Homo sapiens: one gene and its partners. The protein of the gene in region 5 purifies or fractionates together with the protein of the main gene of each other region. This does not show direct contact. Each region holds a gene or a part of one and is shown on either strand. Other genes may lie near its edges.

Region 1 (4,641 bases), on a different chromosome or scaffold from region 5:
GGCAATGTTAACAGTTTCCTATTAGGGTGTTGTGGTGTTCAAATGGCAGCATGAGAGGAAGGTTCAGGCTCTGAAGGCGCCGCCCTGAGCCCTTAGTGGTGTGGGTGTCCCTGCACCCCCACTGGCCCCATGGCTGTTTGTCCTCAGTGCTGGGAGGAGGTCTGTGTCTCCAGTCTCTTGGCTATGGTCAGAAGAGGCACCTGGAAGGTTCCCAGGCACAAACTCTTCCTTGCCCTGTGCCTCTTAGCAGGTGAGCATCACCTGCCCCTCCCCGGGCTCATCTTTCCCAGAGTTATCTCCTAATGGGATTTGCTTCCACAAAGGAAAGACTTCAGCCCCATCCAGCACCCTTAGGTGTCCCCATTCTACAATTCTCCCACCCTGTAAGAGGACCCAATGGCTCCATCCCCCATCCCCACCCTCGCACCTCAGCCACCCCCATCACCTCACCCCGAGGCCTTACTTGTGTGAACAAAATTCATGGTGGGGAGGCTTGGGCCTGGTTCCAGGGGGCTTCCAGCCGGGTCTGCAGTCAGACGCAGTGAGGTTAGCATATGCAATTCGGATTTTCCAAGGATTTAGGGGTATCAAAGACCATTTAATTCCCTCTTCTGTGTATGTGCTGAGAAATACTAGAGCAGCATGATAGTAATGACATTAAATCATAGCTTCCCTCTTCAGAAACATAGAATAGAGATGAACTGGATCACGGGTTTGGCCTCTGGCATGTCACAGGCCTCTCCCGTCACACCTCAGTAGACAATCATTTGGGTCAAAAGCCTCCTCCTATTGTCCCCCATGGGCAACACCCAAATGTGTTCCTCATGGAATACTCAGATGCCCTGTGCCTGGGTCATTTGTTCAGCCCAGCCTTAGAGAGCTGCTTCTCATCGGAGGCTTCTCTTCCACTTGGGAATGTTGGGAGGGAAGAGGTGCATTTTGAAGCATATGCAACCATCCAGTTGGCAAACAGGATGCTAAAGCCCCAAATCTGTAGGTGAGGACGATCCTTTTATCTACTACCTGATGTGCCTGGACACTGAAGCAAAGCTTCCTTTTCCCTTCCAGAATTTCTCTTGTCTAGTTATTTGTCCAGGGAAATTTGAAAGCTCACTTACTGTGCAAGTCAGCAGGAAACAACTGGGTCTGTGCACAGCACCTAGCAAAGTTCTGCTCTAGGAATTACACTTTGGCCCTGAGGTAGATTTCTACAAGAACCTTACCTTCTAAGCAGCACTGGGGTTCATCTTTTTCCCAGTCCTCAGAGCCCATTTTCACTCCTGAGTTCTCCCCCACAAAGGACATTTTCAACGTTGAGTTTATTACTCAACAGAAAATGGAATGAAGTCCAAGACCTAAGGAGATAGAAAGGGGACCAGTTATGGCATCTTCTCACCCCAGGACACCTTGCTGCATGTCTCTAGTGCTGAACAGACCACTGGCCTTGCTCTGTAGTTTGAAATGCTCGCTGCAACCAGAAAGGCACCAAGGGGCCAGACCATGCTCTCCTGTCTATCACGCCTTCAAAGCAGAATTTCCCAAACCTTGAGTCACAGTGCTAACACACGGGGTGCAATAGCATTTTTGTGGATCTTGGCATTTTACAAAAATAAAATAAAAAAGTTAAAAGTGCATTGCTCTAGTCTTGGGGCTGGCACACTATGGCCTTTGGCCAAATCCGGTCCCTGACTGTTTTTTTAAATAAAGTTTTATTGAAACACAGCCATGCTCTTGTTTACATATTGTCTCTGGCTGCTTCGAGGCTACAATAGCATGGTTAACTAGTTGAGAGATCATCTGGCAAGCAAAGCCTAAAATACTTACCATCTGACACCTTCTATAGAAGTTTGCTGAGTCTCTGCAGTAGCCTAATCTTTGCCTAACAAAAAGCAGTTGCTCTGCAACCTCTTTTCATGAAAACCTAAGCCACCAAATGTCCCAGGAGGCTCAATCCCTAATATCTTAGGGTAGGATTGACTCACGTGACTTGCTTCATTGGGAGGGGTTGGAGGAGATATATTTATATATATAAATTCTGCACACCCTATCTCAGTTGACCGAGAGCTTTCAACATCAGCCCAGGCCAACATAGGACAGAAGTGGAGCAAAAATTGGTATTCCCATCTTACCGATAAAAAATCAAAAGTTAAGTGATTTGTTCAGAATCATATCACTTCTAAGATTGCAGAGATAGGCAGTTTGTGTACAAATCCAATCCTTTGAGAAAGGTTTAGGAGTGAGACAAAGGGAACTAAATTGTTCATGCAAAAAATAAAAATGACAAGGAAGGGCTTCAGGACTCAACAATAAGGACGGTGAGCAGGAGCAGGTGGGTAGAGCTGATGGGTCTTTAGGAACAGGGATATCTGCTATTTGATTTTAACCTGTTTGTGGTTTGGCAGTATCCCTGAATACATGAAGCACAACTGCCTTTGTCATGTTGGGGTAAATCAAAGGACACAAAAAATTGGAGGCGCTTGACAGAGAATTTGGCAGCCAGAACATCAGAGCAAGAGATGTCTGGCAGAAACGTAGGTATCCAAAGACATATAAAGATACTGTGGTGCTGCTGAAGGACAGAAGGATGCTCACAGGCTGGAGGACCTGGGGCCATCCCTCGGGGGTACTCATGAAATCTGCTGCCTGTATTAAGATAAATGCAGGGAGCTTTCACAGAATTCCCTAAAGAAGCAGTGCATCTGGCCATCTGAAGTCCATCTCTTTGCACTCAAAATCTGTTCCCAAGGACCAATATTTTCTAGACTCTAAAGTCAGTCTTCTGAGCCTTCAGAGAAGGGACTAGCATTTCCAGGGTTGGTGGATTTCCTAAGCTAGTGTCTGCCTGGCCCTCCAGCAATGCCCTACTTGTTAGTGGAAGCCCTCCTGGGAGAGAGCAGGCTGCTACTGGGGCTGAGAGCAAGGTGTTCTGGGCAGGTCTCAGAGATCATATTTAGAAATTCAGATGTGCTTCCAGTGGGGATAAAAAGCAAGGGTCTAGATGGCCAGATGCTACTCTACTTCCCCATCCATCCTGTTGGCCTTGAAAGCCAGTGCAGGAGGACCACCTACCTGGGCCAGGGATCCTCGTGGTCTGTGGCTCTGTCTTGGACTCCTGGAGCTCTGTTTGCCTTCAGTTCTCAGGATCCTTTACTTGAAGGAGCTAGGTCTGGTACTCATTTGTAATCAACAGTTTGTGAGTGGTTATGCAAATACAACACAAGTATTCCTTTGGCCAATAATAAATAGCATCCTCAGTTATCAGTGATCACTCATTTCCTGCTATTTTCCATGCCAACGGTATAAACAAATTCCTGTGGGGGTAGTGCCACTCTGCTAAGGACTGTGCCACACCTATTCAACACATTTCAAGGTACTTGTGATAGATCAGGTGGCTTCCAGTCCAGTCCAATAATACAGGTATAGAAAACAGAGGAGAGTGAAGGAAAGAGGGGACACAGGGTTTAGATCAGCCAATGAGCCTGGGAGGTTCAAGGAAGCCCTTGTTCTCATGATGGTTCTTTGCCCCAATTCCAGAGTTCATGCAAGTGGAGTCCCCATGTCCCAGAGAAAAATGTCCTCTTTTCATGTTCCCTTCCAGGTACACTCCGGGATGCACTATACCTCTTCTATGTCCCCTCTTCTTCAAAGGTGACATGCAAAAGGACCTTCCTTGATCAAGCCCTCCAAGGACTAGCTTCCTTCTACAGCCCATTAGCTATTTATCTGCACTTCCTTGCATTTTTCCATCACATTTGCCCTTGTCAGTTACTGTGTATGGCTATGTTTTACAACACCACACACAGCTGCTCAGTATGAGGGGAAATCCACATAACCAATTAAGGTAATAGCTTCTGGACCACCACCAGCAGCATGTCAATAACACAGGAACAACAGGCCAGCACAATAGTCAACCACTGTGCTCTCACTGTGCCAGGTCTGGGCTCAGCCCATTTATTTATTTTTCTCCAACCAAATCCTTTGATGACCCTGGGGGTAAATACCATCCTTCCTGTTTTACAGACAAAAGGTGGTGCAGTTTAGAGAGGATGGACAATTTACCCAAGATCACATCCTTAATTACTGGAAGAACTATAACCCAGGCCTTTCTGAGCATGCTGCAGCCTCATCTCTTAAACTTCACCGAAGACTGTGGTCTCATCCTCTAGCCTTTCTTCACATACGCATTTATATAACATACAAATATAGGAGTGTGTCTGACAAATTATTTTGTAAGATACATTTCCTACTTAATGTATCTTGCCTTTTCTACTCAATATGATATCTCAAACATCGTTCCATTTCATCAATACTTTTCTACAATAGTGTATCTAATTACTGCAAGGTATTCCATTATTTGTCTAAAGACCTGGAAAAATGTTATTCCCTTGATGGCTAGAATACAAATCCCTGATTTCTGTTAAATTCCATAAGGAGACACATATCTTTAGAGAACTTCTTGATAAACCTCTTGGGATGGGATGAGATTGTGAAGGAAAAGAGGAAGTAAAAATTTTAAAAAGTCAAAACAAACACTAACTTATCTTCTAAGAAGGTGGTTGGGGTAACTGTAGGCACTTCTGTGGTGCTCACTTCTGGAATGAATGAGGATGTGAGTGTGGGGGCAGCAGGCCATTGCTCTCA
Region 2 (3,500 bases), on a different chromosome or scaffold from region 5:
TAAACCCGGTGCCCTTCTTTGGGCTGAGAAATCTGAGGAATCCTTGCTAAAGGTGTGCCTTGGCCTCCCAACAGAAGACCCTCACAAGAGCCCTGCACTTGAAGAGCCACTTCAGGCCTGCTCTGTGGCTCACCTGTTTTAAAGGACTGATATTGCTTTAAGAAGAAATCACTCTATATACATCAGAAATTAAATTATTATTTTTAAAAGCACATTTAGAACTAAGTGGTGGTAAGACATATCTTCTCTCCCCTGTTAGAAGTAAGAGAAGCCCCATAAACAAACTCTGATGACCACAGCAATATACTTTCTCCTCCTTTCTGGAAAACAAAGAGTGGAGAACATGTCCCCATTCCACTTGTTAATTTGCCCTGTAGATTTCTGCCTTCATTCCTTAAGAAATATGTTTGAGTCCTCACTCTGTGTCAGGCACTGGGGCACTAGAGCAATGCCCAGGAAATGGTCCATATTGATGCTGCAGACTGACTCTCAGCCCAACAAGCCCCACAGCCTTCTCCAAACCCTCAAGAACCTTCCAGCTGTTTGCCTGACCTGGTCCTCCTCCCCTTCCGTGACTGCATTCTAGGAGGAGGGGTATGTGGGTTGGAAAGGCTGAGAGATCATTGACTTCAGGACTATCTGTGCCATAAAGAGGGAAATGAGGCCCAGAGTGGACAAAGGAAGAGATTGTGGTTGCAGTGTGCATCAGTGGTGAAGGCAATTCTGCAGAAATGCATTGAACAGGCTGCTTCGCCTCACTTTCTCCATGAACCAGTGAGTTGATGGATCCAGCCTCTATCCTCAGAGAGAGATAAAGATTCACAAACAGCTCACACACAAGGATGACTGTGGCCAGCATCATGCAGCAGGGGTGGACCCAAATTGGAGGCACCACTTATGTCCCAAGACTTCTCCCATCCCCACATTCATGAAGCTTCTCTCTCTAGAAAAGCACTGGGCAGTAGACATCCATAACACTCTGCCAAAGATGTTCAACAAATTCTTCAAGAGGGGTTTACCTGGATTTTGGAGATCCTCTAGAATTTTCCTTTCATACACCCACCTGTGGACAGTGCTACATCCTCCCTCGATCTGAAGCAAGCTTCGTGTGGAATAGACAAGAAGCACCGGATCTTTTGGAAGGGAAGGTCTCATACTCACAGTACATTCAGAAGTCCACTGAGCCAGCCAAATGCATCTGCCTTTCTTGCTTTATTATTTATACTTCCATGGCCTCTTGGAAGAGTAAGGCCAATACAATGAGCTGGCGTGTATGGGCAGGTGATGGAGGCTTTGGAAGCAATGGCCACACCACCTCCCTGGGAGCTCTCCCTGTGGAGGCAGCGGCATGATATCGTACCGGCCACACCCACTGGGCTGTGGCTTCCCTAATGAAGTCCACTAGACACCTTTTGCAACGACTCTATTTCCCAGTTGCTCTCTGGGTATGGAAGCCAGAATAGTCTACAAGTAGATGAGCCTAGAGTCCTAATACTGAATATTCAACCCAAGTATCATCATTGCTGCCCATGGGAACAGGTTGATAACTGGGCTTCTTGGGGTCATTCCCATGTATCCCTCACCATTTTCTTTTGCTATTTTTTCATGTGTTCCAAATTAGCTTAGCTCACATGGAGTCCTTTGGGGAAAAAGTTCGAGGACAGACAAATAGACAACTAAATGCGTAGATTCCGTTAGGAAGAACAGGAATTAAAAATTCACCTCAAAGTTCATGATCATGGAAATTACAAATTGTTTTCCTATTGCACATTTGTTGTGCTGGAGTGGTGAGACTATGGTTGGGTTCTCTTGTGCTGGGGTGATGAGACTATGGCTGAACTCTGTTGTCTCTGCCTCCCCCTTACTTTTCTATATTTTCCAAATTGTCTTTAAAAAACAGATATTACTTTAGGATTAATTTTTCAAAGGCTTAAAATAAAATAAAATAAAATTCTTATCTTCAGTTTTACCACTTGGAGAGAGAAGCATTGAAGATGTCTGGGAACATTCCAAACCCACTGATGCTGGGATGGAAGAGCAATAAGCTCAACATGCCTATCTTCAATTCTGCTTAATCTAATGAGCTCCAGTGAGCAGAAAAAACATTCACATATTTCTTCCCCATTGAGTGGTGTTTCACAGTAGGTCGTATCTGATCGAAACACCTCGGAGGCCTCGGAAGAGCCATGGGTGTTGTTTTCCCTTCCTTTGGGTTGCTGCTTTTAGCAAAGACATGACTCTCATTCCCAGAGCTATTCAGAGCAGGTGACCCAGACAAACCTTCTTGGAAAGAGGAGACACTAGTTCATTCCCAGGCCTGGTTCAGCCACAGACTCTATGCACTCAGGGCCTAGATGAACAAGGACATGGGGATATGGGTTCCAGAGCTGCCCAGATCAGAAACCACCCCTGAAGATGCCCCTGAGCCACCACCTTCCCTCGCCCAGGCAGCAAGGCCTGCCTGCTGGGATGCATGGGTCAAAGACACCATGTGAACGGCGAGATGAGAGACTTCACACTGGCCGGCTCTGGTCACCAAGGGGTTGCAGAGGAGACAGAAGGACAGGCTGAGACCAAGGAGTACAGGTGGTCCTATTGTGACTGTAGAGGCTATAGTGGTGGAAGATCAGAGCCAGTGAGGTGGACACTGACCCAGAATCCAGGTCTGTACATCTGGTTTGGGAGGGAAAACCTGCCCTCTAATGACAGGGTGAGGCCTGTGTGAGTCTGAGGGCCATGCCTCCCTGCCTGCCCCAGACACTCTCTGCTCCAGGGTAAATTTCCACGGGAGACATGCAGGAAGAGGCCAGGGTAGGGATGCCCACTGAGCGACACGGGCAGCACTGGGGATGCCTGAGTTCAGACAGTGCCAGAGGCCAGTAGGCCATGGGCAGAGGGTAGCCACAGGTGGGCTGCCGGCCAGCCAGGCGCTACACCTGGGTTGGGAGTTGCCTGTCCTGCCTGGGGAAAAGAGCCCCGGAGGAGGTGCACGTCTGTGGAGAGCAGTGAAGGATATAGGCATGGGAGGGAGCAGCCCCCTTCACGTGCCCATTAAGGGACCTCAGCCTAGACTTGAGGCTGCCCCGACTGCCTGTAGTTAAGATTCAGGTCCCATGGATTTGTGCCTGGTGTTCATCAGGGGCTAGAAGGATGAAGGAGATTGTCCAGCCTGGGAAGATTATTGTTATAAGTTAATGGGCCTAAGGCACTGGTCGGAGGCTGAGGGGTGGCCTGAATATTTTTTACATTATTGCCATGTGTAGGGGTGAGAGGGGAGCTAGGAATTTCTGGTCCTCATCCTCACTCTTTGGATCTCCCAGATGGAAGAAACATGTTAGTGACCATGCCACACCCTAACTCCAAGAGCTCTGGTCTGATGGGAACACAGAACACAGAGATACAAGTCACACTAGGTAAGGGCCAAGGTAGAGGTAACTCTGGGAGGTGAGAACACACAAGAGGCACCTGATCCTAGCTGGGGTGCTCTGGACTGTGTCATA
Region 3 (3,531 bases), on a different chromosome or scaffold from region 5:
CAGAGGCTCTGAGAGGTGGCCTGGGGTGGGGGGTGGGGCTCCTACAGGGACAAGCACAATCCACTCTGCCCTCCTTGGGATGCGGGAACTTCGTCCGCCTCAGCCTCTCCCTGCCTGTCTCAGGACTTAAGTCGCATGGACCCCACCACACACTCCACTTTCTCTCTCTTCTCCAGTGGAAGCGACTCCTCTTTCCCACTGGGGCACTCTGCCTTCTCAGCCCTCACCTGAGAGCCATGTTGCTCACACTCTCACTCTGGACCCCAGCAGAGCAGGGAGTGTGAAGATGGAGAGACCACCGGCAGCTCTGTTCTGCCACAGGCTGGGCCTCTTGATCTAGGCCAGTGAGTCACCCTGCTTGGCTGCACTCCCTGCCCTGCTCCCATCCTCTCAGTCCTTTACTCTCTCCACCCCCAGCTCCAGGAACAACGCCCAACTGGCCTCCTACTCAGCTGACAGGAATCTGGTTGGAGTTGTTGTGTCCCAGCCTTCCCAAGCTTCCAGGTGTCCCAGAAACCCAGGAAATCGAGACTCATGACTCCCAGAGAGGATGGCATCTAGAAGGTGAGGAATGCTAATGGTGGAAGAAAAGGAGTTTGGGTGGGGAGGGGAGGGGAGGGGAGGGAGAGGAAACACTGAGGGCCCTAAATAAGGGGAAGGGGGACCCCACGGTGAATGAGGAATGGGAAGAGAATGGATTTCCTGGAGCAATGAGAGAGGAGGGAAATGGCGGAAGGATCTGGGAGGCCAGGCAATCTCTGCTTTCAGTTCAACAAATATTTATTGTCTTCCTCCTCTGTGGGAGCAGCTGGAAGGTAGAAGAGAAACACAGCCCGCTTTTGAAGGAAAATGAGGAACACAGAGACCTCTAGAGGCGTAGGAAGAGCACCACCCAGACTCTCAGAGGAGACCCAGGACTCCAAGAAGGCAAAAAGTCTGCACCTAGTCCCCACAGTTTACTGAGCCATCTGTCCAGGATCCAGGGACAGCAGGGAGCCTGCTTCAACCTCTGAGGGTGCCCCAGTGTCTCCCTCACCCAGGGAATCATCTGAGCACTGAGGGAAGTGGCCACAGGAAGGGGCTGAGATAAGGGCCTTGAGAGGCAATGGGTGTGTTGGGGACGGTGATCTAGGAGGGCGTGGTGAGCTCTGTAATGGAGGGTGGGGTGGAATTGGGAGCGAGAGCCCAGTGGCATATTGGGTGGGTTGACTAGATGTCGAAGAAAGGTCAGTGAAAAGTGGCCACTGTTTCCAGATGATGGTTTGACTTTGCTTTATTTGGTAAAGGGGAAGAGGAAGGTATAACTTCTTCAGGCGTCAGAGGTGCTCTGAGAGCATTTCAGGGGTTTCCCAGTTGAGAAGCTGATGGGGGTGTTACTCAATGGACCATTTCCACACAGTAGAGGGAATTGTAAGGGGTGGTGATCTGGCTGAGGGGCACTGTGGTGGAATGGGAATTTAAACAGTAGGAGAGAATCAAGAGAGGAGCTTTGAATCTACCATTTTGAGAAGAGGAAGGAGGAAGGGGTGATAAGAGAGAGTCTGCAACCTTGGGGTAGTGGAGAAAGCAGAACCACTCTTTTGGGAAGGAGGGAAACTGAGCTAACCCTATGCCTGGGCACTGGACTTCTCCCATATGGGATATAGTGTATGTGCTTGTTTGTGCCCAAGGCATGCACACACACAACAGTTGACTTCTTATGGACTGTTGAGTAACTCTCCTTGGGGTAGGAAAACTTCAGGGTCAGCTAGCTGGGGCCCCAGAGGCTTCACTTGGGCTAGGATATCCCGGATGGAGCGGCAGGGGATCTTTCCAGCACTGCTGGAGCCACAGGGCTTGGCACCAGCGGAGGGATCAGGATGGGGAGAGCCATCGGGGCCCCCAGTCAGTGTCAAGGAGGAGACAGACATGCAAGGGTGACCAGAAGAGCTGGACTTGCTGCCACAAGGCTGAAGGATGATTTTGCCACTGGATTGGGAACTGGAGCTGCTGCTGAAGGAGCCGGTGCCTGGTGGGGAGCAGGGGCTCTGGGAAGCACTGCCGCAGGGATGGTAGGGTAAACCGGAGCTGCTGGAAATGCTAGAACTGCTGGGGACTCGAGAACTGGAGGGAGAGCAGGGTCCCTTGGAGCCCGTGGAGCCGCCTCCACAGAGCTGGACCCCACCAGTCCCCACTGGCTGGAATGCAATGGCCGAGGAAGCTGCCGACTGGCTGGGGATGATGGGGTTGCTGGAGAAGTATTTGCCCTCAGAGATGGGGGGCCCAGCTGCAAAGGAAGGGACCCCTGGAGAGCCTTTCACAGGGTTCTCTTTGGTGAAGTAGCCCACAGGGTAGATTTTACCCTTACTGTAGGTCATGCCTGGAACCAGATAACTGTCAGAGGAGCCACCCACCACCTCGTAGCCACCATAGGATTTGTCTACAGAGGTGATTGGGGGACAGGGCTTGCCTGGAAGGCCACCATTGCTACAGGGGGGACCTTGAACCACTCCAGGGGCACCAGAACCGTGCTGGTCCACCACCACCACCACAGGCCTCTGACCCCCTGACACAGAGTGGGAGCTGGGGATGTAGGGGCCGGAGTGCGAGACGATGGGCCCTCCACTGCAGGGAGAGTCGGGGATGTCCGAACTACAGGGACGCTGGTTGGAGCTGACGCTTTGGCCACTGCTGGATACCCCAAAGGTCTGGGAAGAGGAAGAGCTTTGTCCAGGCTGGGAAGGGTTTAGTATTCCGCGGTAAGAGTTGTCATTGGTTGGCAGAGCAGAGCCATTCCCTACTTGGAAGCTGCTGCTGCTGAACTGAAAGCTGCTGCTGCTGCTCGAATGAGAGCTGCTGCTTCCCGAGTGAGAGCCGCTGTTTCCCGAGTGAGAGCTGCTGCTCCCCAGCTGGGAGGAACCGGATGCACCTTGTAGACTAGAGCCAGATCCGGAGGAGTAGCTGACCTGGGAATACCCCGTTCCTGGCTTAAAAGATCCTGCAGAACCACCCTGGGCAATGCTGGATCCGCTGGAGCTACCACTGGAGCCACCACCAGAGCTTCTGGCACTGGAAATGGAGCTGCCAGAACTGCTGGAGCCACTGTAGCTACTGAAACCGCTGGAGTCACCCTTCCCAGTGAGGCAGGGGTCGTTAGGGGAGGTGATACGCGTGGGGTCCTTACAAGGGTCTGAGAAGGTGCCAATGCTCTTAGCCAAGGTCCCTGTGGAGGAAAGCAGTGGTTAGTAAGGGCCAAGGAGGCTTGGCTTCCTCCCTCACCTTTCTGCCTTATCTCAGTCATCGGCCTCTCGGGTTTCTCCCAAGCAGAGCGCAGGGAGAGTTTAGGGATGGAGAAAGGAGGAAGAACTGGCTATTGTCTCTAAAGGATATTGAGGTGGCCGAATAAAGGCATTTCTTTGTTTGGGAAGGGTGGGCAAACACCAACCAGAAAAATAGAAAATTAGGTGCCAAAGTGAGTGGCCTCAAAGGAATACATTGAATATAAGAGGGGGCTGGGCACAGTGGCTCACGCCGGTAATCCCAGCACTTTGG
Region 4 (4,072 bases), on a different chromosome or scaffold from region 5:
TTAGGGTTACTTAGGTGATGATATGAACTCTTCCTAGAACTGAGAGAAAAAGAGAGCCTTCCTTTACTCATATGAAATCACAAATAATTTCTATCCAATTTGGAAGTACACTTTGGTGTAGTTGTGACAGCTTCCTCAGGACTCAGCATAAATTCAAACAAATAATTGTCCTTAGAAGAGATGCTATAGAAGAGATAGAAATATATTCATATTCTGTAGCTTTTTTTTTTTTGAGATGGAGTTTTGCTCTTGTCACCCAAGCTGGAGTGCAGTGATGCAATCTCAGCTCACTGCAAACTTTGCCTCCTGGGTTCAAGGGATTCTCCTGCCTCAGCCTCCCGATAACTGGGACTACAGGCTACAGGCATGTGTCACTACTCCTGGTTAATTTTTTTTTTTTTTTTAAGACTGAGTCTTGCTCTGTCTTTCAGGCTGATGTACAATGGCTCCATCTCGGCTCACTACAACTTCTGTCCCCCAGGTTCAAGCGATTCTCCTGCCTCAGCCTCATGAGTAGCTGGGATTACAGGCATGTGCCAGCACACCCAGCAAATTTTTGTATTTTTAGTAGAGATGAGGTCTTACCATGTTGGCCAGGCTGGTCTCAAACTCCTGACCTCAGGTGATCCTTTGGCCTCAGCCTCCCTAACTGCTGGGATTACAGGCATGAGCCACTGCGTCCAGCCTAATTTTATATTTTTGGTAGAGATGGGGTTTCACCATATTGGCCAGGCTGGTCTCGAACTCATGACCTAAGGTGATCCATCCTCCTCAGCCTCTCAAAGTGCTGGGATTACAAGTGTGAGCCACTGGGCCTGGTGCTTTTTTTTTTTTTTTTTTTTTTTTTTTTGAGATAGGGTCTCACTCTGTCACCCAGGCTGAAATGCAGTAGTGTGATTTTGGCTCATTGCAGCCTTGACTTCCCAGGCTGAAGTGATCCTCCCACCTCAGCCTCCTGAGTAGCTGGGGCTACAGGCATGCACCACCATGCTGCGCTAATTTTTATATTTTTTGTAGTGGTGGGATTTCGCCATATCACCCTGGCTGGTCTGGAACCCCTGGGCTCAAGCGATCCACTCGCTTCAGCTTCTCAAAGTGCTGGGATTACAGGCATGAGCCACAGCGCCCAGGCTGTAGCTCTCTTAAGGAGGAACATATCTCATCTGAGACAAACCTGAAATGCCAAACCAAACTGAGTTAGCCCCTCTCTGTCTGTTGTATATATTGGAGTAATAACCTATTTGTCTTGATAAAGGGATTGCATGCTTGAATTGCAAAAACCTTTATTTCTTTTGGGTTGCCCAATGTGCAAGACTAAGAGTTATTTTGATAAATTTCTCACCAGGCTGACTGTCTCTCTGTGGGGTCGGGGGAGTTTTCAGGGTCTCACGTATTGCAGGGAAGGTTTGGTTGTGAGATCGAGAATAACAGAAGCAGCGGAGCATTCTGGAAATATTACTATGATGGAAAGGACTACATTGAATTCAACAAAGAAATCCCAGCCTGGGTCCCCTTCGACCCAGCAGCCCAGATAACCAAGCAGAAGTGGGAGGCAGAACCAGTCTACGTGCAGCGGGCCAAGGCTTACCTGGAGGAGGAGTGCCCTGCGACTCTGCGGAAATACCTGAAATACAGCAAAAATATCCTGGACCGGCAAGGTACTCACTGCTTCCTGCTCCCCAGTACTGAGCCCAGAATAAAAGACGATCTCAGGCTAGGAGCTCAGGCAACATCTTAGTCCGGTCTCATCTGTTCCTGGATGTCCCTCAGACCCCCAGCTTTCATCTTTTAGGATTTATTCCTTCCCTGGGATAATATAATTTGTGGTCCAAAAAGAACATCATCAAAATTTCAGGCAGAATGGGCCAGGAAGGCCATTCTTTCTTGATGAGTGTCCCCAAATCATCTCCAATTAACAGACAAGGAGCTTGAGGTTAGGGAGGTGAGGGTAACACTGTCTGTAAGAGGCAGAGCTGGGACTCAAATTCCAGATTTCAGATTCCAAATCCCATCGTTTTTTATCTCTACAATGATGCCTCCCATCTGGGTGGTGGAGAGAAGGGAGGCGTGTAAAATGTCAGCCCCAGAAGGACAAGAGCAAGCCAGTGTGAGCGGAATTGATGGCTGCAAGCTGAGACTTGGATTGGAGACGTAGTGAGACTCAGGATTGTGCAGTGCTGCAGGGAAGTGGTTGCTGGATAGAGGCATGGGCTGAACCAAGCAGCTGGACTGAGACTGGGGGACAGAACTCCAAAGCCCACTGAGATGTGGGAAAACATGGAGAAGCACACGGAGCATTCACAACTTATTGCCGTCAGAGTCAATACATGGGTGAGGTGGGGATTGGGCAAGAGGGAAAGCGTCAGCCTTCCCTGATATTCTGGAAAGTCTCCCGGGGCTGGGGGTGGGCAGGTACAGAGCTTCGAGCTCTGCTGATCGCTGACATCCAGGGGTGGGGGTAGGAAGAGACCTGGGCCGGGAGAAGTCCACCTCAAGCCTGCAGTGTCACACTCTATCCCTCCACAGATCCTCCCTCTGTGGTGGTCACCAGCCACCAGGCCCCAGGAGAAAAGAAGAAACTGAAGTGCCTGGCCTACGACTTCTACCCAGGGAAAATTGATGTGCACTGGACTCGGGCCGGCGAGGTGCAGGAGCCTGAGTTACGGGGAGATGTTCTTCACAATGGAAATGGCACTTACCAGTCCTGGGTGGTGGTGGCAGTGCCCCCGCAGGACACAGCCCCCTACTCCTGCCACGTGCAGCACAGCAGCCTGGCCCAGCCCCTCGTGGTGCCCTGGGAGGCCAGCTAGGAAGCAAGGGTTGGAGGCAATGTGGGATCTCAGACCCAGTAGCTGCCCTTCCTGCCTGATGTGGGAGCTGAACCACAGAAATCACAGTCAATGGATCCACAAGGCCTGAGGAGCAGTGTGGGGGGACAGACAGGAGGTGGATTTGGAGACCGAAGACTGGGATGCCTGTCTTGAGTAGACTTGGACCCAAAAAATCATCTCACCTTGAGCCCACCCCCACCCCATTGTCTAATCTGTAGAAGCTAATAAATAATCATCCCTCCTTGCCTAGCATAACAGAGAATCCTTTTTTTAACGGTGATGCGCTGTAGAAATGTGACTAGATTTTCTCATTGGTTCTGCCCTCAAGCACTGAATTCATCTGAAACTCTTGGTTTCCCCTGGAGGCCATGGTTCCTGGGCACCTTGACCTGGGCAATCCCAAGTGTGGCCTGAACCCCCTTTCCCTTGGGGATTGTTCAGGTGTCCCTAGACGCCTTGTGGTATTGTACCTAATACCCATGAAGGGAGAGGATGATATTACTTGCCAGTGTACACCCCCCTGTGATATTGTTCATAATGTCCAGAGTGAAGAAAGATGATATTACTCCCAATATCACAGAAGGTGTACACCCCCCCTTGATATTGTTCCTAATACCCAGTTGGGGAGGGGAGAATATCTCTCCCAATATACAAGGGGTGTTTAAACTCTCTGTGATATTGTTCCTAATATTCAGGGGGGACAAGGATGATATTACCCAAATATTGCAGGGGTTGTACACCCCCCCTTTGATATTGTTCCTAATATCCAGGGGTGGAGAGGATATTACTCCCAATATTGCAGGGGTCTACATCCTCCCCCCGTGACATTGTTCTTAATAACCAAAAGGTGAGAAGCTGACATTACTCCCAATACCACAGGGGGTGTACACCCCCTATGAGATATTGTTCTTAATATCCAGGAGGGGAGAAAATGATATTACTCTCAATAGCGCAGGGAATTTACATCCCCCGTCGTAATCTTGTTCTTAATATTCAGGAAGGGAGAGGATGATACGACTCCCAGTATCGCAGGGGGTGTGCACCCCCCCGTGATTTTTTTGCTAATATCCAGGGTGGGAGTGGATAATACGCAGGAAGTGTACAGGTCTCTGTGATATTTTTCCTAATATCCAGGGGGGAGAGGAAGATATTACTTTTAATAGTGTACGGGGGGTGTACACCCCTCTGTGATAGTGTTCCTAACATCTTGGGAGGGAGAGGATGATATTACTCCCAATATC
Region 5 (4,171 bases):
AGGCGATGCGTCTGTGAGAATCCCAGACTGGACTAAATCCAAAAGGTTCCCCAGGAGTTGCATCTCGTTTTGCAGACCCCTGAGCTCTCTGGTCAGCAGAAGCCATCGGCTGTGACCTTGCCACCAGTGAGTCCTCCCAAGCGGTCTGCTCACTTCTAGACACTGGACCGAGCAGACCCAATGGCCCTGATCATGTTCACCGGCGACTGGTGGGGAATTTCTAGAGGACGTCTGTTGAGGGCAACCTCCGTGCTCCCTGATCACGCCCTTGTCCTGCACAGCCAGGTGTCACTGCTACTCGGGCCCCCCTACATCTCTGGGGCCACAGATGTGGGATATGGAGGTGGTCAGAGCCCTGGCTAGGGTCAGGAGGTGCAGATACGGGTTCTGCCCCAGACCCCGAGCAGCGGTGGCCCTTCTCCCCTCTGGGCCTGCTCTCCAGAACTCAGATTGCCCTGCCCCATCAGAGGGCTGAACCCAGTACAGTTCCTTGTGTCCTGAACGTCCCACAGCTGCTTTTTCTGCAGCCTCTGCTTGGAGTACCACTTCCCCAGTGATGCGCACTCAGCAAACAGAGCTCAGCCTAGACCTCTCCCCCTCCAGGAAGCCTTCTGGGACTCCCCACACGTCTTCTGTGCATGTGGTCCCCACCCCTACCCCCATGTAAGTTTCTGCAAGGACCACTGCTCCATGAGGCAGGGGGTGTCTGTGTTACTCAGAGTGGACCCACAGCATGAGGTGCAGTCATGTGTGCTTGGAAAGCAGAGTAAGGACTGCTGCAGCCAGCAGGCCCGTGCCTCTCACCGGCAGGCCACGTCCAGGTCACAGTTCTTGTCCACGTAGCAGGGACTCTTCCCTCCCAGCTCCAGCGTGACAGGGGTCAGGTGCTTGGCAGCAGCCGTCATGATGATCTTCCCCACCCCCGTGCTGCCCGTGTACAGGATATGGTCGAACCTCTCCTTGAGCAGCTCCGTGGTCTCAGGGACACCCCCATTGATTACTGGGTACAGATCCTTCCATGCAAGGAGAGAGGGGAGGCTCAGCAAAGACCAAGCCCCTCCTCGCTCTTGCAAGTGTGGGTGAGTTGCAGTGGCCAAGACCAGCAGCCCCGAAGCTCAGCACCCCACCTTGGGCGGGGGGTAGCAGTAACTGGCAGTAGACCGCCTTTCCTGGCCCAGGGGCTCTGTTCACCCCAATGAGAGAGGGCAGCTGCTAAGAACAATCCTCAGCCCCACCAGTAGCTTGGCCCCTTGCTGCAAGAATTCACTATTTCTCACCCCCCAAAGACCTGGCCCTAGCTCAGTTATGAGGCCATGGAGTTACGAGGCCCTGGAGGGCAACTCACCTTGTCCAGGTACTGGGGGATGATGGTAGCCAGCAGGCTCGCCATGTTCTCACTCAGCTCCGAGGGCTTGAGGACCACTGAGTTCCCTGCAGAGCACACCGAGCCAGGCCTATGCCCAGGGTACTTCACCAGAGGCTCTGCCCTCCCAAGGACCACACCTGAAGCCTCCCCTCCATTGTGTGTCCTCGGGACAGTGGATGGAAGAGTTGTTAGCAAACAAGCACATGTCACGGGGCACACCCAGGAGCACGCACGGGCACATGACAGAGGGACACACACGGGCACACGCTGGCCAGAGCTGCACCACCTGGCCCTCTGAGTTGCTGAGATGTTGGAGGAAAAGCAGAAAGGGGAGAGAGGCTCTGGGGGCCCGGTTGGTAGAACAGCGCTGGCCCATTCTAGGAAGGAAGCCCTGATGCATATTAGGTGACAGAAGCTCCAGCCCCCCAACAGGGGTGGGGGAAGGCAGGCCCTCTCTGTATCACCAGGTGTGGACACCTGAGCCTGACTGGACCTCAGGCACCAAGAGGCCTGGCTAAACAGCTTGGTCCCCACAGCCTCCTGTGACAGACCCAGCAAACCCTTATCTGACCCCAGGACTCTTAACACAGGCCTGAGCCCATCCTGGCTTGGCTCCACGCTGGGGGACGGTGCTCCCCCAGCTTCCCTTCCCACAGGGCCATGCACCTGCAGCGATGGCGCCCACCATGGGCTGGATGGTGAGGTTGAAGGGGTAGTTCCAGGTGCCAATGACGAGGACCACGCCCAGTGGCTCCGAGTGGATGTAGAGCTCGTCCTGCTGAGTCTGGGGCGTCTTCTCCACGGGCTCATCCGCGGCCCACTCAGGGAGCTTCTGGATCATGTACTCGATCTCCTCTAGGACGTACACCACCTCCTCATAGTAGGCGTTCCATTCATTCTGCAGCGACAGAGCCGGAGTGAGCTTCCAGGGCCAGGGCCCGCCTGCAGCTGGGGCGAGTGGGGAGCCCCACTGCTCAGCTGCCAGGGTGATGGGGGTCACTCACCCAGCCCAGGGTGGGGGCAGCCGCAGAAGGCTCCCAGGGGAAGCAGAGCCAGGATTAGCCGTTGGACCTGTGGGTCTGAGAGGACCCCTTTCTGCCAGAGGGGGGCCCAGGTAGGTTTGCGGCCCCAGGGGAGAGAGCCGGTGAAGGGACCAGGCATGGGCAACGGAATGGATCCAGGTAGGGGGAATAGAGCCGGGCAGGGGAGAGTAGATTCAGGCAGTGGGAATGGATCCGGGGAGGGGGGGATGGATCCGGGGAGGGGGGATAGATTCGGGCACTGGGAGCTGGATCCGGGCAGGGTGGAGGGAGCCAGGCCCTTTAGTTGTCTGGAGGGGGATGCAGGACCAAGGGCTGCTGGGCGCTCAGGGCCTCCTGTGGGGAGCAGGGGTGAGAAGAGGAGATGCAGACGGCGGAAAACGCGTCTCTTTTATAAACTTGGGCTGTGAAGAGCAACACAGAAGCTGTAAAGTCAACAGAATGGGTTTCCTTGTTGTTTCTGGTTTAAGATGAGAAGTCCTGAGCCATTTCTTGAAAAGTGCAGTAGCAGGCCCGGCGCTGTGGCTCATGCCTGTAATCCCAGCACTCTGAGAGGCCGAGAACTCCTCCTGAGGAACTCCTGAGGGCAGGAGTTCAAGACCAGCCTGTCCAACATGGCGAAACCCTGTCTCTACTAAAAATACAAAATTAGCCGGGCATGGTGGTACACGCCTGTTGTCCCAGCTACTGGGGAGGCTGAGGCAGGAGAATTGCCTGAACCCGGGAGGCGGAGGTTGCAGTGAGCCGAGATCGCGCCATTACACTCCAGCCTGGGCGACAGAGCGAGACTCTGTCTCAAATAAATAAATAAAATAAAATAAAAATAAAAGTGCAGGAGCAAAGAGGGTAGTCGGTGGGAGGATGGGCTCCGGAGCGCTGGACCCCAGGCAGCATGTGGGGACAGCAGGGGGCTGCGAATGCAGAGGTGTCTGGTCTTGCTCAGGGTGAGGGACGGAACAGCCCCTGTGAGAACTGGGAGGGAGGGGAGAGCCCCCCATGCCCTCCGGGGTGCCAAGCTGCTCTGGTTCCTGGTGTGGAGAACCAAGTGGTCCTGCGTGGGGCTGAGGAATGGGGAGGACCAGAAGTTCAGGGTGTCGGGGCAGCAGGAAGTTGAAATGGGGGACGCTGCGGGCGGGACGCGGAGGCCGGGCCAGGAGGAAAAGGCCAGAGGGCGGAAGAGGCGGCGGGGGCGCGCGGGGCGCGGCGGAGGGGAGGGCGGTGCGCCCAGTCTCCGCGACCGAGGGGCCAGGTGGCCCCAAGTCCTTCCTGAACCTCTCTGGGTCGCACTCTCCCCAGCCCCTCCCCCCACGCCCCATCGCATGGCCCCGACACTGGCAGAAGGCGGCCGCCCAGCCTGAGCACCTTGTGCAGGTCTGCGGCCAGCGCGCCCACCAGCTCCTGCTCCTGCTCCTGGATCAGGCGCTGCAGCGCCTCCAGCTGCTGGATCCGGAACTGCAGCGGACGGGTCCTGCCCGAGCTGAAGGCGGCGCGGGCGCGCTTCACGGCCTCGCTGATCTTGCTCATGGCGCCTGGGGACAGAGAGCACCTGCAGCTGGCTGAGGGGCACGAGCGCGCCCTGCCTCCCACCCTGCCTGAATTCTATAGGAAGGGACTTCCCTGGGCTCGGCCTTGGGGAAAATGGCCTTTCCGCTGGAAGGTCCACTTTCTGCCTCGCCTCCTCTCCCGCCCCTCACTCAGACGCCTGGGCCCTGGCTGCCTTGCTAGCCCCTGAGAAGGTGACACCCGCCGCAACCCGAGTCCTAAG
Region 6 (4,171 bases), on a different chromosome or scaffold from region 5:
AAACTCTCTATTTCCACTGGCCCTTGTGCTTCCCCTGCCACCTAACTTAACCACCCTTGACTAATGGCCTGTTGTTGCTTAAAGGATTATTTCAGACATCCAAAAAGTGTACCAATAATATAACCAAAAATAATCTCAAGAGGAAATAACACAATGAACACTTGTATGAGAAATAAAACATTACACATGTACTCGACAACTACTTTCTAAATGTCAGGCTTTCCCCACAAGACTGGAAAGCCGACAAAGGCAGGACCCTTGCCGTCCTAAGTGGCAGAATCATTCCAAACACATCATAGATGGATGGGTGGACAGACAGAAGGACAGAAGGGTATAGGTATCATGGCTAGAGCAACATGTCGAAAGGAGGGGACAACAAGGATGGCCTCAGCCTGCAGCCCAAGCCCTAGGTCCTCAAAGAGTTTCCATCTCCATTCAGACAAGCAACAAGCCTCTGTGCTGAGGCAGGAGCCCAAACAAGGGAGGCCAACAGAGTAACCTCCTCTCTCCAGGCCACTGATAAGTCAGGGACCACCCACTTGCCACTACCATGGGCAGTACCCAAGTGAAGAGGCTGGGAGTTCCAAATCTCAGAGGACCCAAGGGTTCAAGATGTCAGCTGGGCCAGGCACGGTGGCTCACGCCTGTAATGCCAGCACTTTGGGAGGCTGAGACGGGCAGATCACCTGAGGTCAGGAGTTCGAGACCAGCCTGGCCAATGTGGTGAAACCTGGTCTCTACTAAAAATACAAAAATGAGCCAGGCATGGCGGCGGACACCTGTAATCCCAGCTACTCAGGAGGCTGAGGCAGGAGAATCACTTGAACCCAGGAGGCGGAGGTTGCAGTGAGCTGAGGTCGTGCCATTGCACTCCAGCCTGGGCAACAAGAGCAAGACTCCATTTCAAAAAGATGTCACCTGACCCCCATCTGACCAGATCCTCCTACAGGCAACCCAGCGAAAAATGGCAGCCGTGAGCGGGCCAGACTTCAAGTCCTACTCCAATACTTCACAGCTAGGGTAGTTGTAGGAACTAATTGAGTTAATGCACTTTAAGAGTGGTTAGAACACTGCCTGGCACATTGGCTATATTACAGCCACAACCATCCCCTACTGCCTATGACAATCCCTCATAACACAAGTCCCCTGTATGACTCCCAGCCCATCAAGTCACACCATGCCTACAAGAGCTTTATGTTCAGAGCCCATGCCCCTCCCTCACCACAGGGCTCTGCTGCCACCTGGAGACCCAGGGGCCTCCCCCATTCCTCTCTCTTCCCCAGACTCTCCTTCTTCACACACTCAGCTATTTATAGCCTCTGGCAATACTCCAACCACAGGCCACCTCTGCCTTTTAATAGATACAGATTCCCACCCACACCCAGGAAGCCAGGGCATCCATGCACAGGAGGCTCCCCTTGACCCCCAGCCCACTCGCCTAACCTGGCAGGAGGAGAAGCCATGCTCCCAAGATGCGGGTGCTTATGGTACCCCCTTAGGCCTGCTGCTTCATAGCCCTGAGGTAAGTGAGCATGGCCCCCAGACACCAGGACAAGGGGCTTGCTGCATCCCTGAGTCACAGCCAAACCAACTGCTGGCCTCCAAAGGAAGCTGAAATAAAAGTGGCAGTGTCCCCAAGGGGCAGTCCCTATGCTCCAAGGGGCCTAATGCCAGTAGAGAGAAAGTACCCAGTGCTCCCCAAACCATCCCTCCTGGCAGGACCACTCCCACATACACCACCCCCGACCCTCACACAAACACACAGTACATGCACATACACACACACAGTACATGCAGACTGCACTCTGAACCAACATTCCTGGTAGCAGAACCTAAGCCGGCTAGTTTGGATGCTCGAAGACACGCACTGGGAGGTCAAATACTGGGAGGTTCGTTTCTCCTATGAAGCAGCTCAGTCCAGTAGGCCTTGGACATACCCACTATGCCCTGAGGAGAAAAGGGAGAAACCTCACCAAGGTCCCATCTGTGAGGGGCTCAAAGTGCAATGGGGAGAGAAAGAAGAGGAGATGGTTCAGAGGTGGAGTGTCCATGCCCACCTCCCCTGGAGTCCCTGAGCTCTGCACTTGGGTGTCCCCAGTCCAGCCAGTGTCTCCTAGAGGAACTGTGACCCCAGCAGCCAGCAGAACCACTGCTCAGTTGGCTCCTGGAGGCCCCTTGGCAGCCACCTACCCCAGGGAGCAGGTGCCCAGCCCCACCCTTGTGGGCACTGTAGTGGTGAGAAGGAGTGCCACTCACCAGGTGAGAAGGAGTGCCACTCACCACTACATCTATCTAGGTCTGCTTCTGCCAGCACACTGAGGCACACCCTGCCAGAAGCCTCCATGCCCAAGAGGAAGACAAGCAAGAACATCTCAGGAGGGCCAGTGTTCTCCCTCTGGTGTCCAGCCTTCACATCTGCCCAGAGAGGAAAGGCAGCTCTCCCCACAGACAGCACCCCTCGAAAGGCAGCCCTGAGTCTGCTCAGCTGCCTTTATAGCCCTAGCAGGTCCCTCCATAAGAGCGAAGGAGGGCCAAGAGCAGTGACTTATCCATGTTATGATTCCACAGCCCCCAGCTCCACAAAGCAGCATCTCCACCACCTCCCCAGCAGCAGAGTAAGGGCAGCTGGGGTGTAGAGATGGAGGGAACCTGAAGAGACAGATGGGGCCAGGAAGGAAGGCTGGAGTGTATAACAGATAAAGACACTGACACATGCACACACGTGTATGCACACTGTGGAGCGGCATGTACAATAGGGGAGAAAAAAACCCAAAATATTCCAACATTGTGTCTTTGCATTTCTTTTACCCAAGAGAATAACTCTTGACTATTTCTAGCAACCAAATACAATCTCTAATACATATGCTTTTTGTCCTTCATCCATATATTTGTAAGCCATCCAGGTTGATATGCATTAATTTAACACTTATACAGCTCACACTACATCCCAGGTCCTATTCTAAGCATTCTGCAAAGAGTAACTTATTTAATCCTCACGATAAACCTGTGCAGGTCCTCATTTTATAAAAACTGAGGCACAAAGAGATTAAGTAACCTACCCAAGTTACTTATTAAGTGTCAAAATCAGGCTTCAAACCCCAGGCAGCCTGTCTCTAGAGTGCATGTTCTTTATATACTGCTGCCTCTCCTGCAGCCCTGAAGTGCATTTATTTCAGAAGCTTATAACCTCACATAACTTTAAGTATCCACTCACCTACTGGACTCAGGTTATTTATGTTTGTTGATCTCAGCAATGCCATCATGACTTCTTTTTTACATTTGTGTGTGTGCGTGTGTGTGTGCACTCATGTGTGGGCGTTTCTTGGCTAGGTCATAGAGTCTAAAGATCAACTGACTAAATACTGTTAAACTGTTCTCCAAAGTGGATGTGCCAATCCAAGTTCCCAACAGATGACAGCCCCCACCTGGGGTTCACCTGGTGAGTGTGAAATGGTACACAATTTGGATCTGCATTTCCCTGATTACTTGTGAGACTGATCATCTTCTTGTGATTACTAACATTTCCTTCTGAGAACTGTTTGTTTGTATCTTTTCTCATTTTTCTACTGGATTACTTTTCCTTTGAGTTACAGAAATTATTTTATATATTCTTGGTAATAAAATTTTTCTTACTATATAGTAACCCTCTTCATTTGTAATGAATGCTCTTTGCCAAAAAGTCCATTTTATCTGATGTTAACATAGCTATATGACATTTCGTGTGTTAGTATTAGAGAAAATTACCTTTTCTAACTTAAACAAAAAATCTTTCTCTCTTCCCTCCCCCCAATTCAATCTAACACCATCTTTTAATTAGAGTTCGGTCTCATTACATTTATGATTTCTGGGTATGTTTATATATATGATTACTGGGTATGTTTAAATTTGTTTCTTTTCTACCGTTACCTCTATTTGGATTATCTTTTAAAATTTCCTATTTTAGCCACTTTTAAAGTTATACATCTCATTCCTATTCCGTTGTAAGCTAGGCCTATAAACTTTAATGGGTACACTTATACTAAAAGCCTAAATCAACATCTCTACCATCCCTCATTGGAACTTAAATATTTTAAACTCTAATGACTCTTCCAATGTACATCTAATTTAACATATTGCTTGTGTTCCGTATTTAGTGTCACTGTTCTTACTACCCAGCTCCCAAATCAGACAT
Region 7 (3,542 bases), on a different chromosome or scaffold from region 5:
TGGCATTCTGTGTGTGTGAGTGGTGAGTGACTTAGTGCTTCTCCAGACGAGCTCATGATCTTGTGCAAACCTTCCTCCTCGTTTTCCAGTTTGGGTGGGGGCCTACCCAGGCCTCCTTCCAAATTCATCCATCCATCGCCCAGTCAGTTATGACTCCTAAATGCCTCTCACCCTCGGCCTCCTCTGCCTGCACCATGGCCCACTCACGCCTGGACTCTGGCATTTGTTCCTAGCTTCTCTGTTACTGGTCTCACTGCCCCTCCCCTCCTCTCCCCACCTGCTCCCAGCCAGGACTGTCTCTTAACAGTGCTGCCGAGGGAGTATGGAGTGTGAGGGGGCAGCTGAGCCAAGGAAAACGCAGAAACGCTGCAGTTGCCTAGGGGGCCATGATGTGTGGCACAGGGTGGACACTGGGGTGCCCACCAGGCACCAGGATGGTGATGAGTGTGTCCCTGTGGTGGTGCCACAGCTGGCCAGAGTGAGGAGTTTCACTTGGTGATCCAGGTGTAGCTCCTTCCTAGGCTGTTAGAGCCCATGCAGAGAGGGTGAGGCTGGGAACAGATGATCTTTGTCTGTGTCTGGGGCTCTCATTCTGGCTGCTACGTAGATCACCTGGAAGCTTAAAAAATTACCAATGCCAGGGGGCCGGGCGTAGTGGCTCATGCCTGTAATCCCAGCACTTTGGGAGGCCGAGGTGAGTGGATCACGAGGTCAGGAGTTCGAGATCAGCCTGACCAACATGGTGAAACCCCGTCTCTAAAAAAAAATACAAAAATTAGCTGGGTGCAGTGGTGTGCGCCTGTAGTCCTGGCTACTCGGGAGGCTGAGGCAGGAGAATCGTTTGAACCTGAGAAGCAGAGGTTGCAGTGAGCCGAGATCGTGCCACTGCACTCCAGCCTGGGCGACAGAGCGAGACTCAGTCTCAAAAAAAAAAAAAAAAAAAAAAGAAAAGCTACCAGTGCCTTCCTCCACACCATATTCTCATGGAATGGGCCTGGGCTGGTTGCCAAGCTCAGGAAACCCTGGGCTGAGCCTCGCCAACGTGGCAAAACCTCGTCTTTGTACAAAAAATATAAAAATGAGCTGGGCGTGGCGGCTCGTGCCTGTGGTCCCAGCTACTCGGGAGGCTGAGGCTGGAGGATCACTTGAGCCACGCGTGAGTGGAGGTTGCAGTGAGCCAAGATCACACCACTGCACTCCAGTCTGAGTGACAGAGTGAGACTCTGTCTGTCTAAAAAAAAAAAAAAAACAAAAAAAAAAAACCCCAACCTTGGGCTGGAGAGACCAGAGGGCTGGAAACAGCCCAGTGGGACGCCCTGCACTCAAGGTCCAGAAGGAGTTTGAGGCCTTAAGTTTAGTGTAGAGGCTGAAGCACGGACACATCCCACCAGACTTCCTAGTTTCAGATCATTGCTCGGGCCCTGGGACCTCGGGCCTGGTACTTAACCCCCTCTGTGCCTCAGTTGTGAATAAAATAGGGATCCTGCGTAAATGGTGATATTGTCATAAAACCACCTGTAGGGCTATTGTGAGAATTAAGTGATTATATTTGAAAAGCATGTGAAACATCAGCATGGATTAAGCACTTCATAAAGCAGCTATTGTTAGAAATTTTTAGAATTAGGCAGCTGTTCCAACCAAAAAGCTCCAGTGTTGTGGGAGGCCAGGAAGGGGAGAGCTGCACGTGGCTTTCATCAGGACCGGCTGTGGGTGCAGTTGAAAAAGGGGCACAGGCCGGCCCAGTGGTTGTTTTATTTACTTATTTAGAGACAGGGATTTTGCCATATTGCTGAGGCTAGTCTCGAACTTTTGAGCTCAAGTGATCTACCCATCTCAGCCTCCCAAAGTGCTGGGTTACAGGCATGAACCAATGCACCTGGCCCTGGCCCAGTGGTTTTGAAAGGGAGACCACTGCGGTACTTCTAGGGATACATTTCTGAAATGAGGGGCTATTTGGCAGCATAAGAATGGAAGTAGAAGGTCCAGTAAGGGACTTAAAGGGTGATCTGAAGGCATTGAGGGGATGTGAACCTAAGACAAGCCCCTGGGGCCCGAGGGGAAGCGCCTTGGCCTGGAGTGCTACCTTGGGCAGGGCAGGCTTTAGTTGTCCCCAGGAGCGGATGCGATGGGGAGGAGAGTTTGGATGGATGCAGGGGCTTCACAGTCTGTTTCATGTGTCCCCTTGATCTCTTTCAGAGACTGGGGATATTTATATCTGGGGCTGGAATGAATCAGGGCAGCTGGCCCTGCCCACCAGGAACCTGGCAGAGGATGGAGAGACTGTCGCAAGGGAAGGTGAGGGTCATCTCGGCTCCCACAGCCGTCTCCCCAGGATGTGGCTGTCATTCCTAACTCCTGGCTGTATGCTGGCCTCAGAGCTACACTGCTCAGATGGAGCATGTGAGCCCCTTATGGGAGGGAGCATTGGCAAGGCTGATGCCGGTCTTGGCACAACACACTTGTGCAGCAGTGCCAGCCCTGCCTGCAGAATGTAGGGGTTGGGAGCACCAGCTTTGGAGCTAGGCAGTCGTGTACCTCAGAGCTGTTGTGGCAATAAGTGACTGCATGAATAAGATTTAGCTCAGGGCTCAGTTGGTGTTCACATCATTATTATCATTCTGAAGCCACAGAACTGAATGAAGATGGTTCTCAGGTGAAGAGAACGGGTGGGGCTGAGGATGGAGCCCCTGCCCCCTTCATAGCTGTCCAGCCCTTCCCGGCATTACTGGATCTCCCCATGGGCTCAGATGCAGTCAAGGCCAGCTGTGGATCCCGGCACACAGCTGTGGTGACACGTGAGTGGGGCTGGGAGGCACTCTGCTCCACTCGAGCTGGTGCCTACGGAAGGGGGTGTGGTCGACGGAAAAACTTCTGTCTTAAGGCTTCTGTGGCTCATACAGAGCAGCTACCTTGCTCAGTGGATAAGCCCCAACCCCCTTGTTGTTTCACAGTAGTTCCCCAGCCTGTCAGGCCCAGAAGTTTCTTCCTTCTGGTGGGAGGCTGATGCTTTCTGTCCTCCCTGCACGGCCACAGACACATTCCCTGCCCGCCGCCGCCTCTGACAGCAGGGACTGTCCAGTCTGGCATGGAAGACTGCGGCGCTCGGTAGCATGGCACACAGGAAGATCCGCCACTTTTTCCCTCGGGATCCTCTGCCATGCCACGTGTGATCAGCCAGTTGTTAAGAGAATATGTTGTTCCATGCCAGGCAGATCTCATGAGGATTGTAATATGCTAGCTGTGGGCTGTGCCAAGCTGGGCTGGACAGATGCCTTGCCAAAGAACCGTAGTGACAACTATCGATTGTCCTTTTGCTTTCAGGAACAGGGGAGCTCTACACCTGGGGCTGGGGTAAGTAAAAGGATTGTTTTTGTGACCCTGAAACCAAGGAGAAGAAAGACCTGGGAGTACAGGGCAGGTGACAAAGCCAACAAGACTGGAGGAAGCAGGGGCCTCGGCCAGGTCACTGGGAGGAACAGGACTGCTCCCTCCCTGGGGTTGGAACAGACATAGGCGCGCTCAGTCCGAGGCCAGACAGGGGA

The links.
Region 1: the proteins of ALDH3A1 (region 5) and IL37 purify together in Homo sapiens (affinity purification with mass spectrometry; one large-scale study listed by BioGRID and IntAct). This does not show direct contact.
Region 2: the proteins of ALDH3A1 (region 5) and SERPINA12 purify together in Homo sapiens (affinity purification with mass spectrometry; one large-scale study listed by BioGRID and IntAct). This does not show direct contact.
Region 3: the proteins of ALDH3A1 (region 5) and CDSN purify together in Homo sapiens (affinity purification with mass spectrometry; one large-scale study listed by BioGRID and IntAct). This does not show direct contact.
Region 4: the proteins of ALDH3A1 (region 5) and AZGP1 purify together in Homo sapiens (affinity purification with mass spectrometry; one large-scale study listed by BioGRID and IntAct). This does not show direct contact.
Region 6: the proteins of ALDH3A1 (region 5) and ACVR2B purify together in Homo sapiens (co-immunoprecipitation; one large-scale study listed by IntAct). This does not show direct contact.
Region 7: the proteins of ALDH3A1 (region 5) and RCCD1 purify together in Homo sapiens (co-immunoprecipitation; 3 studies listed by BioGRID and IntAct, with this or other methods). This does not show direct contact.

The regions. Positions count from the first base shown.
Region 1 is NC_000002.12:112,909,677-112,914,317, reverse strand, and holds the start of IL37 (interleukin-37), read right to left. Parts: upstream 3,154-4,641; 5' UTR 3,070-3,153; intron 1,356-3,069; 5' UTR 1,306-1,355; coding exon 1,224-1,305; intron 527-1,223; coding exon 464-526; intron 1-463. UniProt on the Homo sapiens protein: Immune regulatory cytokine that acts as a suppressor of innate inflammatory and immune responses involved in curbing excessive inflammation.
Region 2 is NC_000014.9:94,502,970-94,506,469, forward strand, and holds part of SERPINA12 (serpin A12 precursor), read right to left. Parts: intron 1,254-3,500; exon of another isoform or gene 1,064-1,253; intron 1-1,063. UniProt on the Homo sapiens protein: Adipokine that modulates insulin action by specifically inhibiting its target protease KLK7 in white adipose tissues.
Region 3 is NC_000006.12:31,114,328-31,117,858, forward strand, and holds the end of CDSN (corneodesmosin precursor), read right to left. Parts: intron 3,203-3,531; coding exon 1,698-3,202; 3' UTR 760-1,697; downstream 1-759. UniProt on the Homo sapiens protein: Important for the epidermal barrier integrity.
Region 4 is NC_000007.14:99,965,741-99,969,812, reverse strand, and holds the end of AZGP1 (zinc-alpha-2-glycoprotein precursor), read left to right. Parts: intron 1-1,382; coding exon 1,383-1,658; intron 1,659-2,526; coding exon 2,527-2,810; 3' UTR 2,811-3,083; downstream 3,084-4,072. UniProt on the Homo sapiens protein: Stimulates lipid degradation in adipocytes and causes the extensive fat losses associated with some advanced cancers. May bind polyunsaturated fatty acids.
Region 5 is NC_000017.11:19,741,200-19,745,370, forward strand, and holds part of ALDH3A1 (aldehyde dehydrogenase, dimeric NADP-preferring), read right to left. Parts: exon of another isoform or gene 3,936-4,171; 5' UTR 3,931-3,935; coding exon 3,769-3,930; exon of another isoform or gene 2,371-3,768; intron 2,265-2,370; coding exon 2,033-2,264; coding exon of another isoform or gene 1,432-2,032; coding exon 1,346-1,431; intron 1,014-1,345; coding exon 805-1,013; intron 12-804; coding exon 1-11. UniProt on the Homo sapiens protein: ALDHs play a major role in the detoxification of alcohol-derived acetaldehyde. They are involved in the metabolism of corticosteroids, biogenic amines, neurotransmitters, and lipid peroxidation.
Region 6 is NC_000003.12:38,470,633-38,474,803, reverse strand, and holds part of ACVR2B (activin receptor type-2B precursor), read right to left. Parts: exon of another isoform or gene 3,264-4,171; coding exon of another isoform or gene 3,215-3,263; intron 1-3,214. UniProt on the Homo sapiens protein: Transmembrane serine/threonine kinase activin type-2 receptor forming an activin receptor complex with activin type-1 serine/threonine kinase receptors (ACVR1, ACVR1B or ACVR1c).
Region 7 is NC_000015.10:90,957,704-90,961,245, forward strand, and holds part of RCCD1 (RCC1 domain-containing protein 1), read left to right. Parts: coding exon 1-22; intron 23-2,196; coding exon 2,197-2,295; intron 2,296-2,624; coding exon 2,625-2,795; intron 2,796-3,321; coding exon 3,322-3,351; intron 3,352-3,542. UniProt on the Homo sapiens protein: Plays a role in transcriptional repression of satellite repeats, possibly by regulating H3K36 methylation levels in centromeric regions together with KDM8.